2 separate regions of the Homo sapiens genome follow, and region 2 is linked to region 1. A link means that fine-mapping ties the variant in region 1 to the expression of a gene that starts in the linked region. Tissue or cell type: whole blood. Region 1 holds a variant in brackets; the other region holds the start of a gene. All regions are shown on one strand. Distances are between the middles of the regions.

Region 1 (8,185 bases):
ACATACTATTTGCTGTTAGCTCTTTTAACAGATTAGCAATAACTAGTTTAACATCCCAGGGATGAGTAATTAACATATAATAACTTGTGTGTTGTGGCTTGTTTATCAATATTTTTGTTTATGGTCCTTTGGGATTTTTTTGAATATTTTTCTCTACTTATTTATTTTGAGACTAGGTCATTAAGACTGGCTAATTTTCGTATTTTTGGTAGAGACAGGGTTTCTCCATGTTGCCCAGGCTGGTCTCAAACTCCTGGGCTCAGGTAATCCAAAGTGCTAGGATTACAAGCATAAGCCACCTTGCCCAGCCTTGGCCAAAGAATCGTGTACTCCTTATAAATTTTACTTTAAAATCAAGTGTAATGCTCCCCACATCATCCCCCTACCTCTAGAGAGAAAAAAAAAGTCAAGAAATAAATCGTAGTAAAATTTGAGTCCTTCAATTTGTCATGATTTATTCTGTAAGGTAATATATGCAATAAAATTCAAAACTGAAAATTTCACTTGATTCCTTAGAATTTGGACGAAATCCTGAAAGAAAATGAACCTTTTCTCTGGAAATTTAGTGTCAATGTCATCATGCAGTGATATAAAAAGATATACCACACAGTGTTAAGAAAAACAGGTAAATTAGATACAAGTCTCTGCTATATACTGAAAGCCATGGGAACAGGGCGCCACCGCCTAGAGAGTGAGAAATGAAGATGGGTCCCAGCAGAAGTAACAAAAAGCAAGTGCTTGCCAGAGAGAGGGGGCTGGGAGGGAGAGGAGAATGGAGAAAGGGAGTGTGGGAATGTGAGAAAGGGCAGTTGTAGCAAGCACAGAGGAAGAACAATCAGGTAGGGGTGGGGGTGAGGTACTGGAGTTAGGAGCAGAGAACAGGAGTTGAAGGGAGCCTTCACCAGGATGGGGGCCTTGCCAGGCCCTGGAAATGACCACCTTCAAGGAACATATAGTTGAGAATTTAGAGAGCATGTAGACTGGTGGCTCTATTTTACAGTTAAACTAGAGAGCCTACCTTTCTGACTTGGCTGTTTTGATGTTTTAATATGTGATTTCATTTTCATAATGTAATCAATCTATTTTATATTTTCCAAATCATGTTTTCCATCACAATTTAAAGTAAATTTAAGAAAGATGTGAGTCTGTTAGATGGGGGAAGTAAATAATTATCCATTATTTAAACTTGTATTAAAAATAAGCCCCTAAACTGGCCAGGTGCAGTGGCTCACACCTATAATCCCAGTACTTTGGGAGGCCGAGGAGGGTGGATTCCTTAAGGTCAGGAGTTCAAGGCCAGCTTGGCCAACATCCTCAAATCCCGTCTCTACTAAAAATACAAAAATTAGCTGGGTGTGGTGGCACGCACCTGTAATTCCAGCTACTGGGGAGGCTGAGACAGGAGAATCACTTGAATACAGGAGGCGGAGGTTGCCGTGAGCCGAGATCATGCCACTGCACTCCAGCCTGGACAACAGAGTGAGACCCTGTCTCAAAAAATCAAGGAAAAAAAACCCTAAATATAATCTTTAATATATTGATTCAGAAATTTAAAGAAAATTGGCCAGGCACAGTGGCTCAGGCCTGTAATCCCAGCACTTTGGGTGGCTGAGGCAGGTGGATCACTTGAGATCAGGAGTTTGAGATCAGCCTGGCCAACATGGTGAAACCCTGTCTCTATTAAAAATACAAAAATTAGCCAGGTGTGGTGGTGCATGACTGCAGTCCCAGTTACTTGGGAGGCTGAGGCAGGAGAGTCACTTGAACCCACGAGGAGGTGGTTGCAGTGAGCCAAGATTGTGCCACTGCACTCCAGCCTGGCAACAGAGCAAGACTCATCTCAAAATAAAAATAAAAATAGAAAATAAAAATTAACCTAAAACCAGTTAACATATACTGTCAGGTAAAAAAAAAAGATTAAAAGTTTCCCAAGGGGGGTTGGAAAAATTTGGGAGGGGCACCTTCTATGAGAGGGGAACAAGCAAAGACTCCCCGACTCCCCCACTAGTAGGGCTATCCAGCCTCAAGGGATCCATGGCCACCAGATCTACCTTCTGTCACATCCCTGCACGCCTTGGCATTCCTTAATGTCTCAAAGGTGATTTGTACATACCAAGTTATATCCATACCCATTCAGAGGCAATTACCTCTGTAATATCATTCATGTCAGAGGTCATTGTGATTCTCATACACAATTATACCAAGGCAAACAGTGGTCAATGTTGGACAGAAGCAAAGGGGACTTGTGCTGAAATGAATAGATTCACAAGTCCCACACTTGTGGGAAGGGAAAAAGGAAGGGAAAAAGGAAGGGAAGTAAACACCATTTTTAAATATAGAAATGTTCTAGTTTTCGGCAATTTTCAGAGTAGTGTGACACAGGGAGAGGAGCAATGTCTCTTGAGGACTTCCCAATATTTTAATATAACATCGTGCTTGTCAAAACACCTGATAAATACATAGGCCAAAATGGATCTCTAATGAAATATATGTGACTTTATCTTACATGATAGGATTAAGGGCATGCTCATTAAGCAAGACCAAAACTGAATGCATCTATCTGCTAAAACCTAGTAAGATAAAACTAGACTCAAAGTATCCTGGACAATTGAAACATCATCTGTCAAATTAAATAAAAGGCAAGTTAGTGTAATTTTAATTTGTCCTTGAGTGCACTGAGAAAAGTAGAATAAAAGCTAGGTAAATAAAAGCTAGAAACGGATCTTATAGTGATAGTGGTACATCAGCTCAAAGAGACAACAAGCCTAACTTTTTTCTTATTTTTTTTAGAGATTGAATCCCACTCAGTCGCCCAGGCTAGAGTGCAGTGGCACCATCTTGGCTCACTGCAACCTCCGTCTCCTAGGCTCAAGCCATTCTCCTGCCTCAGCCTCCCGAGTAGCTGGGATTACAGGTGCCTGTCACCATGTCCAGCTAATTTTTGCATATTTTTAGTAGACACGGGGTTTGACCATGTTGGCCAGGCTGGTCTTGAACTCCTGACCTCAGGCGATCTGCCCACCTCGGCCTCCCAAAGTGCTGGGACTACAGGCGTGAGCCATCATGCTCGGCCCAAGACCTGAATTGAGACACAGGATCTAGAGATTTGCTGGGGAAGATTTAGCCTGATTACTGATTATCAATTATTGCTATAGAACACCTAAAAGTTTACACAAAAAAACTGGGCTGAGATATGTTAATAATAAATGTTGAAATAACGAAAACACTGTCAGATGGTCACATACACATATGCACATCAAAAAGCAATAAACAGGCTGGGCGCAGTGACCCACACCTGTAATCCCAACACTCTAGGAGGTCAAGGCAGATGGATGATCTGAGGTCAGGAGTTCCAGACCAGCCTGGCCAACATGGTGAAACCCCACAACAAAGTGAGATTCTGTCTCAAAAAACAAACAACAAAAAACCCACCAAATACTGTGACTTTCCAAGGAAAGTTGGGAAGCAAGAACTCAACTTTGACAAGAGGATGATTAACGGATTATTTTGAGCGCTCAAATTTGACTAAAGAATTTTGTACTTGAGGGTCTTAAATGTTACATCCTCCTAGGATCTTTGCATTTTAAAATGTCATTGTGTATAAACTTCTTAGGGGAAGTGAATCTTCTACCTCAAACTTGGAGTTTCACCGTGATGTTAATAATGGAGACAGGGAAGGAGGCACAAAGAAAAGACCGTAATTGGGAGATAGGGGACATGATAAGAGTAAAGGGCAAGCTCCTTGCATGACTGAATTAAAATGTTCTAATTTCAAATATATATTTCACATTCAATATAATTTTTACTATAGTCTATGGGCACTTCTTTTTGCCAGAAGGTTATAAATAATATGGTAGACTACTAAACATACAGTTGTACATCCATCTGATCCCTTCCCACGAAAAAGTGGATAAACTTGCAAGATAAACTCATGACACCATGAGCAATGGGAAGCTGGAAACATGAGAGATGAAGTGAGTGACAGTGATTCTGTGCACTGCAAGGAAGCAGACAGTAATGATGAGTGCAGTGGAGGAGCCCCCAGAAAGCCAGCCACTTTAGGGCACAGAGCTTGGGGAGGCCTCAGTAAGTGGGGGTGCAACATGGGGCTGAAAAATAGAGCATTAGCCCAAAGTTTCTAAGAGGAGTTAGATCCTTAACCCAGTTCAACCAGGTAACTGTTCTCATCCACTGAAAACAGGCGGGAGATTGTCAAAGTCCGCGCACTGAATCATGAGCCCATATCCCCACCCACACAACCCTACCATCCTCTTCTCCACTTGGCTTTTAGGACGCTGGCAGCCAAGCTTGCATCTCTAGACAGGAAATCTCAAGATTTTTCTCTGGAACAAAAAAAAAAATGTTTTTTTTTCCTCTGGGAAAACTCAACTCAGAAAAAAGACCCATATGCTGGCTGGCTGCCTTATTATTCTACGGAGAGGACTACAGGCTAGCAAGCCTGGCCCATACTGTAACAGAGAGCTTCAAGTCATTTTTTAAAACATCTCTTTCTCTCTTAAAAATATAAATCAAGGCTGGGTGCAGTGGCTCAAGCCTGTAATCCCAGCACTTTGGGAGGCC[G/A]AGGTGGGCGGATCACCTGAGGTCAGGAGCTCGAGACCAGACTGACCAACGTGGAGAAACCTCATGTCTTCTAAAAATACAAAATTAGCTGTGCATGGTGGCGCATGCCTCTAATCCCAGCTACTCAGGAGGCTGAGGCAAGAGAATCGCTTGAACCTGGGAAGCGGAGGTTGCGGTGAGCTGAGATTGCGCCATTGCACTCCAGCCTGGGCAACAAGAGCGAAACCCCATCTCAATAAAGAAAAAAAAATCAAGACATCTGAAGAACCTCTAACAAGAAAGAGAAAATAGGAAACAGACAAAGATTTTTAAAAATTATAGTACAGGCCAAGTGTAGTGGCTCACGCCTGTAATTCCAGCACTTTGGAAGGCTGACGTGGGAGGATTGCTTAAGCTCAGGTGGTGAGACCAGCCTGCCTGGGCAACAAAGTGAGATGCTGTCTCTACAAAAAGTAAAAAACTTAGCCAGGTGTACTGGCATGCACCTGTGGTCCAGCTACTTGGGAGGATCCCTTGAGCCCAGTGGTTGGAGGCTGCAGTGAGCCATCATCACATCACTGCACTCCAGCCTGGGTAAGGGCATGAAACTGAAACAAAAACAAAAACAAAAAATACGTTATAATGTATTCAAAAAGCAAGAGAAACGATTATAGCCATCAACTAGGCTCTGATTATTCTTTAAAAGTCAGTACATTCAGAGAAAAAAAAAGCTCTTCAAAATATCAAGAAAAAAAATAAGTAAATAAAAGGCTAGAAGGCTGGGCACTGTGGCTTGTGGCACATGCCTATAATCCTGGTACTTTAGAAGACCGAAGTGGAAGGATTGCTTGAGTCCAGCAGTTTGAGACCACTCTGGGCAACACAGTGAGACCTTGTTTCTGCAAAAAATATAAATATTAGCTGGGCATGGTGGCACACACCTTTAGTCCCAGGTACCAGGGAGCCCCAGAGTTCGAGAATGCAGTAAGCTGTGATCGCACCACTGCATTCCAGCCTGAGTGACAACAAAACAAAACAAAACAAAACAAAACCAAAACAAAACCCACATACAAAAAAGATTAGATGATAAAGCTGAAGAAAGCATAGAGAAATCAGAACAAAAAGATAATGAGATAAAACATAAAACAGAGGAGAAAAGATAAAAACAGCGGATCAATCCAGGAGGTAAAATGCCTTATATTAACAGGAATTATAAAGAGAGCAGAGAAAATAGAGGGAAGGAAATTTTCAAAGAACTACCACATGACAAATTGCCTGAACTGAAAGACATCAGCGTACATAAGATCTCATAGAGTAGCCAACACAACCATGAAATGACCTAGTCAAGACCTATCATTTTGACATCTCAAGACCCTAGGGAAAAGGAGAAGATCCTCAAACTTTCCAGAAGAAAAACAGAACATGCATCAAGGGATGAAAAATTAGAATGGCAGTCTTCTCAACTGCAGCACTGGAAGCTAGTGGACAAACCAGGAAGAACGACTGCAAGACAGTGAGAGAAAAATCACTTCCAATCTAGAATTCCACACCTAGCCAACTCTCAATTAAGCATGAGGCTAGGATAAAGTCATGCTCAGATATATAGGATCTCAACATTTTTACACTCCCACACACCCTTTCTCACAAAACTACTAAAGGATGATGCACGCCCTTAAATGAAGGCTCACTTTAAGAATGAGGAAGAAATGGGATTCAGGAAACAGAACATTCAATAGAGGAGAGAAAGAAATGAAGATGATGATGTTGATGATCTGCCCCAGGATAAGTTATGAAACAGATCCAAAGAATAAATATCCTAACTGGAAAGTGTGCGTTAGAAAAGATGTGGCCCAAGAAACTTGAAATATAATAATATGCTTCATAAGCATTATACATTTCAAAAAATGAAAAACGATTTTAGAAGTCTATACAAATCTTCCAAATTACCTATTTCATTTTCTGTCCATCACATGGGCATAGGCACTTTAATTTGGAGGAATAATCATGTGACATGTAAGAACAAAAACATGCAAGAAAAGGAACCAAATGAAATAAAAATCCCAAGCTGGTAAGAGATTTCTCATACTCACCATCTCTCTGGCTATTTCCAGCGCTTCCTGCAGGCCATAGAGCCTGCCACAAACCAGGTAGATTCCATTGGCCCAGAGAATACAACCCTCATGGACCCAAAATTCATTGCTGTCAAGAGGTAGTTCAGGGATTTGTAACTCCAGCTCAGGGCCACCTTCTGAAGTGGTGGGCACGGAGGGCTTCGAGTCCAAAACAGTCTTTTCACTGCTGCCCTCAGTGGCTGCTTTTTTACAAGGGAGCCCCCTGGACAGGGACCGAGGGCCTCCACCACAGTCTTCCGAGCGGTGGCGCCGCTTAAACCTGGGGTGTGCGGCCAGGCTTCTCTGCTCCTTCTGCTGCTGCTGCTGCTCTTCCTCCTCCTCAGTGTCCGTCTTGGAGCCATTAGAAGCACTTTTGTGCCGTACCTTAACTTTGCTCTGCATTTCTGTGGCCCTCTTAGGAGGTGGATTCTTCGGGAGAGTGGCTGCATAATCTTGGGGATAAAAAGGTCCAAAGAGGTCACCCATGTTCCGGTAACTGGCCCACTTGCCACACAGACAGCAAACCAGGTGCCCCATAACCGAAGACTCTGTCACAACAGGTCCCTGCAGCATAAAGGACGAGGCCGGGAGCGCCTTGCTTTCAGTGCTGCTAGGTGGAGGGGTCAGTGACCTCTGACCCTTCCTGCCCCTCACTAATTTGGTCTGTTCTTCTTCCTCAGCATTGATGATTGTACAAACGGCTCCAAGTTCACACTTATTTACTACATGGATGTAAGGGTAAAAAGACTTGTTCTTGGCATCAGTTTTATCCAGTGGCTGGGTGGCATATTTTAGTTTGATCTCAGGTTCTTGGGGTTCCACAATGGGAACTGCTTGTTTGGTTTTTCGCTTCCTCGGCTGGGCCCCAGGCTTCCTTCTCTCCCTCCTTTGCCTCTGTTTTTTTGGCTTTGGCTCTCCATCTGCAGAACCTTCTGGTATCTGTGGGGGCTGAGGGGGTGGAGGCGGTGGCTGCTGCTGTTTCTTTTGCTTATTCACACTACCAATGGGTCTCCCCTTCTTCTTTCCTGATGGGAAATATCCCTTTGGAGGGAAACCCTCTTGCTTCGGTGAAATCGTCACTGTATCGTTCTCCTTCTCTTCAGCCTTGGGGTTTGCCTCAGGGGCCAATATGCCCACTGGAGGTACATTCTTTGAGTCTGGAAAGATTAAAGGTGCTGTTCCACCCAGGGAACCATCTGGTCTCCCTTGGTTACTACCAGGCTTCTGTGAGGTTGTGGATGTCATGGCACCAGGGGGTTCCTTTCCGGCAGTAACTGTTTCTGCATGTGTCTCTGTCTTCACTTTGTCATCCACGCTGCCACGCCACTCTTCTGAAGACCTTGGAAGAGGTTTCTCTACGTGCAACTCCTGGTTTGCTGGACTGACTAGGTCCGAAGCCACCTCACCTTTTCTCTTCTCTATGTCAGCATCCTGAACAGCAACACTCCCACCTTCAGGAGGACCACTCTTCAAAGACAGTATATCATCAAGCGTAACCGTGTCTCCCCCAGCCT
Region 2 (8,153 bases), 76 kb before region 1:
TGTCGTTCCCTGGGCAGGAGATGCAGGGTGAGAGTGGGGACTGGACTCTAGGATGCTGGGACCCCTGCCACCAAACACACGGGGGACACACACTGCCTGGCACACAGCTGGACTCTGTCAACTAGTCCTGCGCCCGAGAAGCTCCACAGTACCCTCTCCGACCCCACAGCAGGGCGCAGTCACACCTCTCAGAGGCACCCACACTGCCCCCTCTCCCTGCAGGCGTTGGGTCCTCCAACATTCTGGCAGGTCCTGGTTTGTCTCCCCACTAGACGGGGGCTCTGGATGGACAGGCCAGCCCTGCCTATACTCTGGACCCCCCACCCAAGTGGGGACAGTCAGTGTGGTGGCATTGAGGACTAGGTGGCCAGGGTTCCTAGAGTGGGCCCACCTGGCAGTAGCCATGCTGGGGCTATCACCAGGTGCTGGTGCTGAGCTGGGGTGAGGAGGGCGCCAGGCCTACCTTAGGGATGCGGAAGCCCTGTACTTCGATGTCACGGGATGTCATATGGGTCACACCCAGGGGGACGATGTCCCCAAAGCGCTGCACCTCATGAATCACGGCAGTGGTGTAGGGCATGTGAGCCTGGTCACCCATCTCTGGTCGCCGCACCTGCCCTATCACGTCGTCGATCTCCTGTTGGACACGGCCTGGACAGACATGCGTCCCCACAATGGGTCAGCACCCAGGGGGTCCGGCCCTGACACTCCTTCTTGCCTCCTATGTTGGAGGAGGTCAGGCTTACAGGATCCTGGTCAAGCCTGTGCTTGGAGCCCCGGGTGTCCCAGCAAAGTTCATGGGCCCCCGCCTGTACCCTTCCTCCCTCGGCCCCTGCACTGTTTCCCAGATGGGCTCACGCTGCACATCCGGATGTAGGATCATGAGCAGGAGGCCCCAGGCCAGCGTGGTCGAGGTGGTCACCATCCCGGCAGAGAACAGGTCAGCCACCACTATGCGCAGGTTCTCATCATTGAAGCTGCTCTCAGGGTTCCCCTTGGCCTGAGCAGGGCCGAGAGCATACTCGGGACAGAACGGGGTAGCCCCCAAATGACCTCCAATTCTGCACCTGTCAGCCCAGATGCGGCTCGCCGGGTGATGCACTGGTCCAACCTTTTGCCCAGCCTCCCCTCATTCCTCCTGGGACGCTCAACCCACCACCCTTGCCCCCCACCGTGGCAGCCACTCTCACCTTCTCCATCTCTGCCAGGAAGGCCTCAGTCAGGTCTCGGGGGGGCTGGGCTGGGTCCCAGGTCATCCTGTGCTCAGTTAGCAGCTCATCCAGCTGGGTCAGGAAAGCCTTTTGGAAGCGTAGGACCTTGCCAGCCAGCGCTGGGATATGCAGGAGGACGGGGACAGCATTCAGCACCTACACCAGACAGAACGGGGTCTCAATCCCTCCTGTGCTCTGCGTTCACCTGGACAAGTCTCAGGCCCCAGCCATCTCCAGGTAGACCCAGGGCCTGCCTGTCCTTACCACTGACCTCACCAAGTCCCTCCCCAAGTGCCAGCCTCCACCCTCTCTCCTTGCCCAGAGGAGAAACCTAAAATCGAAATCTCTGACGTGGATAGGAGGTACAGAGTCCTTGGCCTCTCCTGGTGCCCCCTGACCCGGGCACACCTCTCCCACGACCATGTCTGAGATGTCCCCTCCTCCTCCAGGCCCTTCTTACAGTGGGGTCTCCTGGAATGTCCTTTCCCAAACCCATCTATGCAAATCCTGCTCTTCCGAGGCCCCAGTCCAGCCCCGGCACCTCTCGGGAGCTCGCCCTGCAGAGACTCCTCGGTCTCTCGCTCCGCACCTCGCGCAGAAAGCCCGACTCCTCCTTCAGTCCCTCCTGAGCTAGGTCCAGCAGCCTGAGGAAGCGAGGGTCGTCGTACTCGAAGCGGCGCCCGCAGGTGAGGGAGGCGATCACGTTGCTCACGGCTTTGTCCAAGAGACCGTTGGGGCGAAAGGGGCGTCCTGGGGGTGGGAGATGCGGGTAAGGGGTCGCCTTCCCCGTCCCCCGCCTTCCCAGTTCCCGCTTTGTGCCCTTCTGCCCATCACCCACCGGAGTGGTTGGCGAAGGCGGCACAAAGGCAGGCGGCCTCCTCGGTCACCCACTGCTCCAGCGACTTCTTGCCCAGGCCCAAGTTGCGCAAGGTGGACACGGAGAAGCGCCTCTGCTCGCGCCACGCGGGCCCATAGCGCGCCAGGAACACCCCTGGGGGTGGGACGGGCACGTGCGCGTGGCCATGAAGGCATTAGCCCCACCATCCACCACCCACTCCAACCCTATGCTCCCCCTGGTCTCCCGCAGTCCCTGGCTCTGTCCAGCTGGTCACAGGGCCCACTCTTTGTGCATCCACCTTGCTCCCTTGGCTGGGGCAGGGCTTTGCCCCACCTCGTCTCTGCCCACCCTGACCGCCTTTGCACTCAGGGAAGACCCCGCGGGCCCCGCGCCACCCACACTGAGCTTACAGCACAGGTGCGGTCCCCGCCCCCCACTTCGACACCGGATTCCAGCTGGGAAATGCGCCAGCCTCACCCATTGGGCTCCTGCCAGGTCTCGGCAGTGGCCCCGCCCACTCGTCACAAGCCCCGCCCTCGTCCCCATGCTCACACCTCCCTAGTGCAGGTGGTTTCTTGGCCCGCTGTCCCCACTCGCTGGCCTGTTTCATGTCCACGACCCCGCGCCCTCTCTGCCCAGCTCGGACTACGGTCATCACCCACCCGGGTCCCACGGAAATCTGTCTCTGTCCCCACCGCTGCTTGCCTTGGGAACGCGGCCCGAAACCCAGGATCTGGGTGATGGGCACAGGCGGGCGGTCGGCGGTGTCCTCGCCGTGGGTCACCAGCGCCTCGCGCACGGCCGCCAGCCCATTGAGCACGACCACCGGCGTCCAGGCCAGCTGCAGGCTGAACACGTCCCCGAAGCGGCGCCGCAACTGCAGAGGGAGGGTCAGGGCCTCTTGTCAAGCCAGGATCACCCCAGACTACAGGTCCTAGTCCTATTTGAACCTTGGACGACCCCCGGGGCTACCAGGAGTGAGCAGGTGGAAGGAGGAGACCCAGCCTCCTGATCGTGGGGCGGGGGTGGGGGTCACACCTTCTGTGATGGAGGAACTCAGTTTGGATGCGTCACCCAGGTATGACCTTGCAAGAGTCACCAAAATTGCCGAGAGGCCCCAGTTAGCATCCCATTCCCAGATGATGGTCCATGCCGGTGAGCAGTGAGGCCCGAGGACCCACAGTGCAAAAGGTTTGAACCGGGTCACTGCACCCCCTTCATCCTCGATTTCGTGATTTAAACGGCACTCAGGACTAACTCATCTTCCATTCCCAAGGCCTTTCCTTCTGGTGTCAGCAGAAGGGACTTTGTACTCCATAACATATGTTGCCCAATGGGCTTGCATGCCCACTGCCAAGTCCAGCTCCACCTCCAGGCCCTTGCCCTACTCTTCCTTGGCCTTTGGAAAATCCAGTCCTTCATGCCATGTATAAATGCCCTTCTCCAGGACGTCCCCCAAACCTGCTTCCCCTTCTCAGCCTGGCTTCTGGTCCAGCCTGTGGTTTCACCCACCATCCATGTTTGCTTCTGGTAGGGGAGCCTCAGCACCTCTGCCGCCCTCCAGGACCTCCTCCCTCACCTGGTCGAAGCAGTATGGTGTGTTCTGGAAGTCCACATGCAGCAGGTTGCCCAGCCCGGGCAGTGGCAGGGGGCCTGGTGGGTAGCGTGCAGCCCAGCGTTGGCGCCGGTGCATCAGGTCCACCAGGAGCAGGAAGATGGCCACTATCACGGCCAGGGGCACCAGTGCTTCTAGCCCCATACCTGCCTCACTACCAAATGGGCTCCTCTGGACACACCTGGCACCCCCACCCCACCAGGCACAGAGGACCAGGCAGGACACTCTCAGCACACCGAGCGCGTGACCCTTCCCTTATAAAGGGAGCTGATGATGGCCTTTGCCCTCTGCTGTGAGTGAACCTGCTGTGTTGACTGTGCTGCCAGTGGCAGAGTCAGGCCAGGGCGGGTATGGGCTGCTCCAGAGGTTCTTGCCCCTGCTTCCTGCTCCAGGCCCTTACCCAGGGTAGGCCGGTGGAGGGGCCTGGTCGGAGAAGTCACCCCCTCTCCCCACTCCAAGCTCCTGAAGCCTGCAAAGCCTTCTGGGATAACCAGGGTTTCAGTGGACCCGGCCATCCACCTCCCAGCTAGGCTCATACACCCTAATGTAGTCACAACCCCTCCTCCAGAACATGGCCTTGCCCTTTCCCTACCCCCACCTGCCCACTCCAGAGTGACCTTCAGCACCCTTATCTGTCACTGGCACTTACCTGGGGCCTTAGAGCTCCTGATGATGAGTGGCATCATGGGCCTGGTCCCTTCACTTCACCTTGCACTCTTGACATGCACAGACGCTATGCACACACCTGATGGTGCACAGATCTCTTGTCCACTCCCAGACACTTGTCCACTTGTTCACACTTGCAGGGACACGATTACACACGCAGAAAATCACCCACACAAAGACAATATTCACACATACACAGACTCACACTGACACTTAGGGCACACATTCTCTCTCACACACACCAGTCACACACACATACAGACCCGGCACCAAGTACCCCACTTCCCAGCCATGCCGGAGGTTTCCTGGATGGGACCACTCCTGTCCAGAGGCTGCTCCCAGCCCAGCCCACATTCCTGGGCTCTGGCCGGGCTATGGCTTCTTGTTTGCAACAGGGCTGTTCCCAGAGCTCCCAGTTGGTAGCCGGAAGGCCCTTGCCCCAGCCTGTGACAACATCCTCCCGGGCTGCCTGAGGGTCGTCCTCCTCCACTGCTTTCTGGCCTCCATGTTTCTGATTAGAAATCTGGTGGGAACGTTATGGAGGATCCTTTGTTCAGGATATGTTGCTTTATTTTTTTTTTCTTTAGACAGGGTCTCACTCTGTTGCCCAGGCCGGAGTGCAGTGGCAGGATCATGGCTCACTGCAGTCTCGACATCAAGTGGACCCCCTGCCTCCCAAGTAGCTGGGACTACAGGCACCACCCAGCCTAATTCTTTTTTTTTTTTTTTTTTTTTTGGAGACGGAGATTTCCTCTTGTTGCCCAGGCTGGTGGCTCCCCTCCATTGTGCAATGATGCAATCTCGGCTCACTACAACCTTCACCTCTAGGCTTCAAGCAATTCTCCTGCCTCAGCCTCCTAAGTAGCTGGGATTACAGGTGTGTGCCACCACGTCTAGCTTTTTGTATTTTCAGTAGAGATAGGGTTTCACCATGTTGGCCAGGCTAGTCTTGAACTCCTGACTTCAGGTGATCCACCCACCTCAGGCTCCCAAAGTGCTGGGATTATAGGCATGAGCCACCGCACCCAATCCCAGCTAATTTTGTATTTTTTGTAGAGACCGGGTTCTTCCAAGTTGTCCAGGCTGGTCTTGAATTCCTGGGGTGAAGCGATCCTCCCACCTGGGCCTCCCAAAGTGCTGGGATTACAGGCCTGAGCCACTGTGACTACCTGATACGTCTCTTCTCTCTTGCTGCTTTCAAAATCCTGTCTTTTGTGGGAGGGCAGCTGCCGAGCTCTGGACTTCTACGGGATCATCCACTGAGGACAGGAGGACCGGGCCCTCTACAGGTGGATTGTATGGCAGCTGCCATGCTTGGAGCCAGTGCTCACCGAGCACGTGGCGGCTGTGGAGCTGGACGCGGGGTTGATAAGTCCGCTGGGGGTGACGGGCTCATCCATGAGTGGTACTTGATGTGGCTGCAGAAGGCGGATGTGGTGGTGGCAGAAGTGACACAACTGTCCCTGGGTATAGGCTATGATCTGTGCCAGGCCACAGCCCTCAATAAGTGAATCCTGTGCCTGCTCCAGCCGCAGTCTGGTGGAGTGCTGTCGGCCATGATCTGGGAAGAGGCAGATGGCTCTGGGTTCCAGGTGTGGGACTACGGAGAGGGACAGGTGGAGGCCCTGCTGCATGGATAGGTTGAGGCTGATCCTCCCGAGCAGGTTGCCTCCCCTAACCCAACCATTGGACCTAATCCCATTTTATTAAATTCTTCTCATCCCAGACACTGCTCTAGTACCAGTCCTGGCTCTTTGCCCCAGGAGCAAATTAAAAGGTACATTTAAAATTCTAAAAAAAGAAAAATCTGTCTTTTGACAGTGATTATGATGATGCGTATGGCTGAAGATCTCTTTGAGTTTACCCTACTTGGAGTTTGATGAGCTTTTTGGATGTACAGATTAATATTTTTCATCAGATTTGGGAGGTTTTTCAGCCATTAATTCTTCAACTATTCCTTTACTCCTTTCTCCCTGTCTTCTTTCCTGGGACTCCCATTGCGTGTATGTCGGAAAGCTTGACGGCGTCTCCAGGTCTCTGGATCTCTGTGCATTGCTCTTCATGCTTGTTCCTGTTCCTCAGAGGGTACTACCTCAGGTGGCCTCTCTCCATAGTCACAGGCTCTTTCTTCCAATTGTTCCAATCTGCTCTTGGGCCCCTGGGATGAATTTTCATTTATTTTACCCTACAACTCCAGAATTTTTATTTGGTTCCTTTTTAAACTTTTTTTTTGTTTTTTGTTTTGTTTTGTTTTTTGGAGTATCGCTCTGTCACCCAGGCTGTAGTGCAGTGGTGCAATCTCGGCTCACTGCAATCTCTGCCTCTCGGGTTCAAGCGATTCTCCTGCCTCAGCCTCCCGAGTAGCTGGGATTACAGGCACGTGCCACCACGCCCGGCTAATTTTTGTATTTTAAGTAGAGACGGGGTTTCACCATGTTGGCCAGGCTGGTCTCAATCTCTTGACCTCATGATATGCCCGCCTCAGCCTCCCAAAGTGCTGGGATTATAGGCATGAGCCACCATGCCCAGCCCCTTTTTATAAGGTTCATCCCATTATTGATATTCTCTAATTGGTGAGACATTGTTCCCACACTTTCGTTAGTTCTTTTGACATGGTTCTTTTCTTTTTCTTGGGAGAGGGTCTCTCTGTCGCCCAAGCTGGAGTGCAGTGATGCAGTCATGGCTCACTGCAGCCTCAACTTCCTGGGCTGAAGTGATCCTCCTACCTCAGCATCCTGAGAGGCTGGGACCATAGGCAGCCAGCTAATTTTTTAAATTTTTTTGTAGAGATGGGGGTCTCACCACATTTCCCAAGCTGCTCTCAAACTCCTGGGCTCAAGCAATCCACGGGCCTCAGCTTCCCAGAGTGCTAGGATTATAGGTGTGAGCCACTGCACCAGGCCTACACGTGGTTTCTCCCTTTGAAGTACTAGCCAGGCCTGACCATGCTTAGCTTCCGAGATCAGCAGGTTCCAGCCGGTGCAGCCTCAGATGCAGCATGTTTTAGGTCTTTGAACATATTTAAATGAGCTGACTGAACGTCTTTGTCTAGCAATTGCAGCATCGGGCTGGTCCCATTGGTGACTTTTCCCGTGTCTGGGTCGTCCTTTCGGTTTCCTTTCCATGTCTCATAATTTGTTAAAACCTGGACATTTCACGGGCGATAATGTGGCAACTCCGGAAGTCAGATTCTCTTCCCTGCCAAGGATGTGTTGTTGTTGTTGCCTGTTGGAGCTGTTTCTTTGCTGGGTGACTTTTCTGAACTAATTCTGACTAAGCATTAATGTCTCCATTCCCTGCGAGCTGTGGCCACTGAAGCCGCTCTTCAGTTACGGCAGTGGTCAGCTAATGACTGGTCAGAGAGTTCCTTAGGTGCCTGGAAGCGAAGTCTTTGCCGAGTGGGTCTCTCTCTGTGTGCCGGGCGTGGCTTCAGTGCTCGGCTAGGCAGTGCTCAACTTTCCCTTAGCCGTCACCTGCTGTCTGCACAGCACCTCAGGTCAGTCACGTGTGAGGGCTCAGGGCCTTGCCGGCCTTCCTGAATATGGGCACAGCTGCAGACAGCCTTACCCACGTGCAGGGCACCTAGATTCCCAAGAAGGGGCAAGAGCTGTTCAAAACCACTACAAGCTGGACATGGTGGCTCACACCTGTAGTGTCAGTGACTCAGAAGGCTGTAATGGGAGGATGACTTGAGGCCAGGAGTTTGAGACCTAGCAAGACCCCATCCCCCACCCAAAAAAACAAAAACAACAAAAACTCACTGTGGACCGCTCATGCCCCAGCTGCTGCTTTTTAACCCCAGCTGTTATCCATCACCACAGGC

What was found. PIP is the estimated chance that this variant, and not a neighbour inherited with it, causes the effect.
Region 2: it holds the start of CYP2D6, and the variant in region 1 is fine-mapped to the expression of CYP2D6 in whole blood (TOPMed, PIP above 0.99).

Annotation. Positions count from the first base shown.
Region 1 is chr22:42,203,001-42,211,185 of GRCh38, forward strand. It overlaps TCF20 (transcription factor 20), which reads right to left. Exons shown (of 6, transcript NM_001378418.1): 2 at 6,651-8,185. Among named protein-coding and RNA genes, the nearest start is that of TCF20, 64 kb to the right of the region's middle. The variant G/A (reference allele first, on the strand shown) is at 4,582.
Region 2 is chr22:42,126,984-42,135,136 of GRCh38, forward strand. CYP2D6 (cytochrome P450 family 2 subfamily D member 6 (gene/pseudogene)) reads right to left here and starts at 3,827. Exons shown (of 9, transcript NM_000106.6): 1 at 3,629-3,827; 2 at 2,755-2,926; 3 at 2,050-2,202; 4 at 1,801-1,961; 5 at 1,191-1,367; 6 at 859-1,000; 7 at 464-651; 8 at 1-9. The coding sequence starts at 3,808. RefSeq lists promoters at 3,833-4,299, 3,886-5,418 and a cis regulatory region at 5,112-5,123.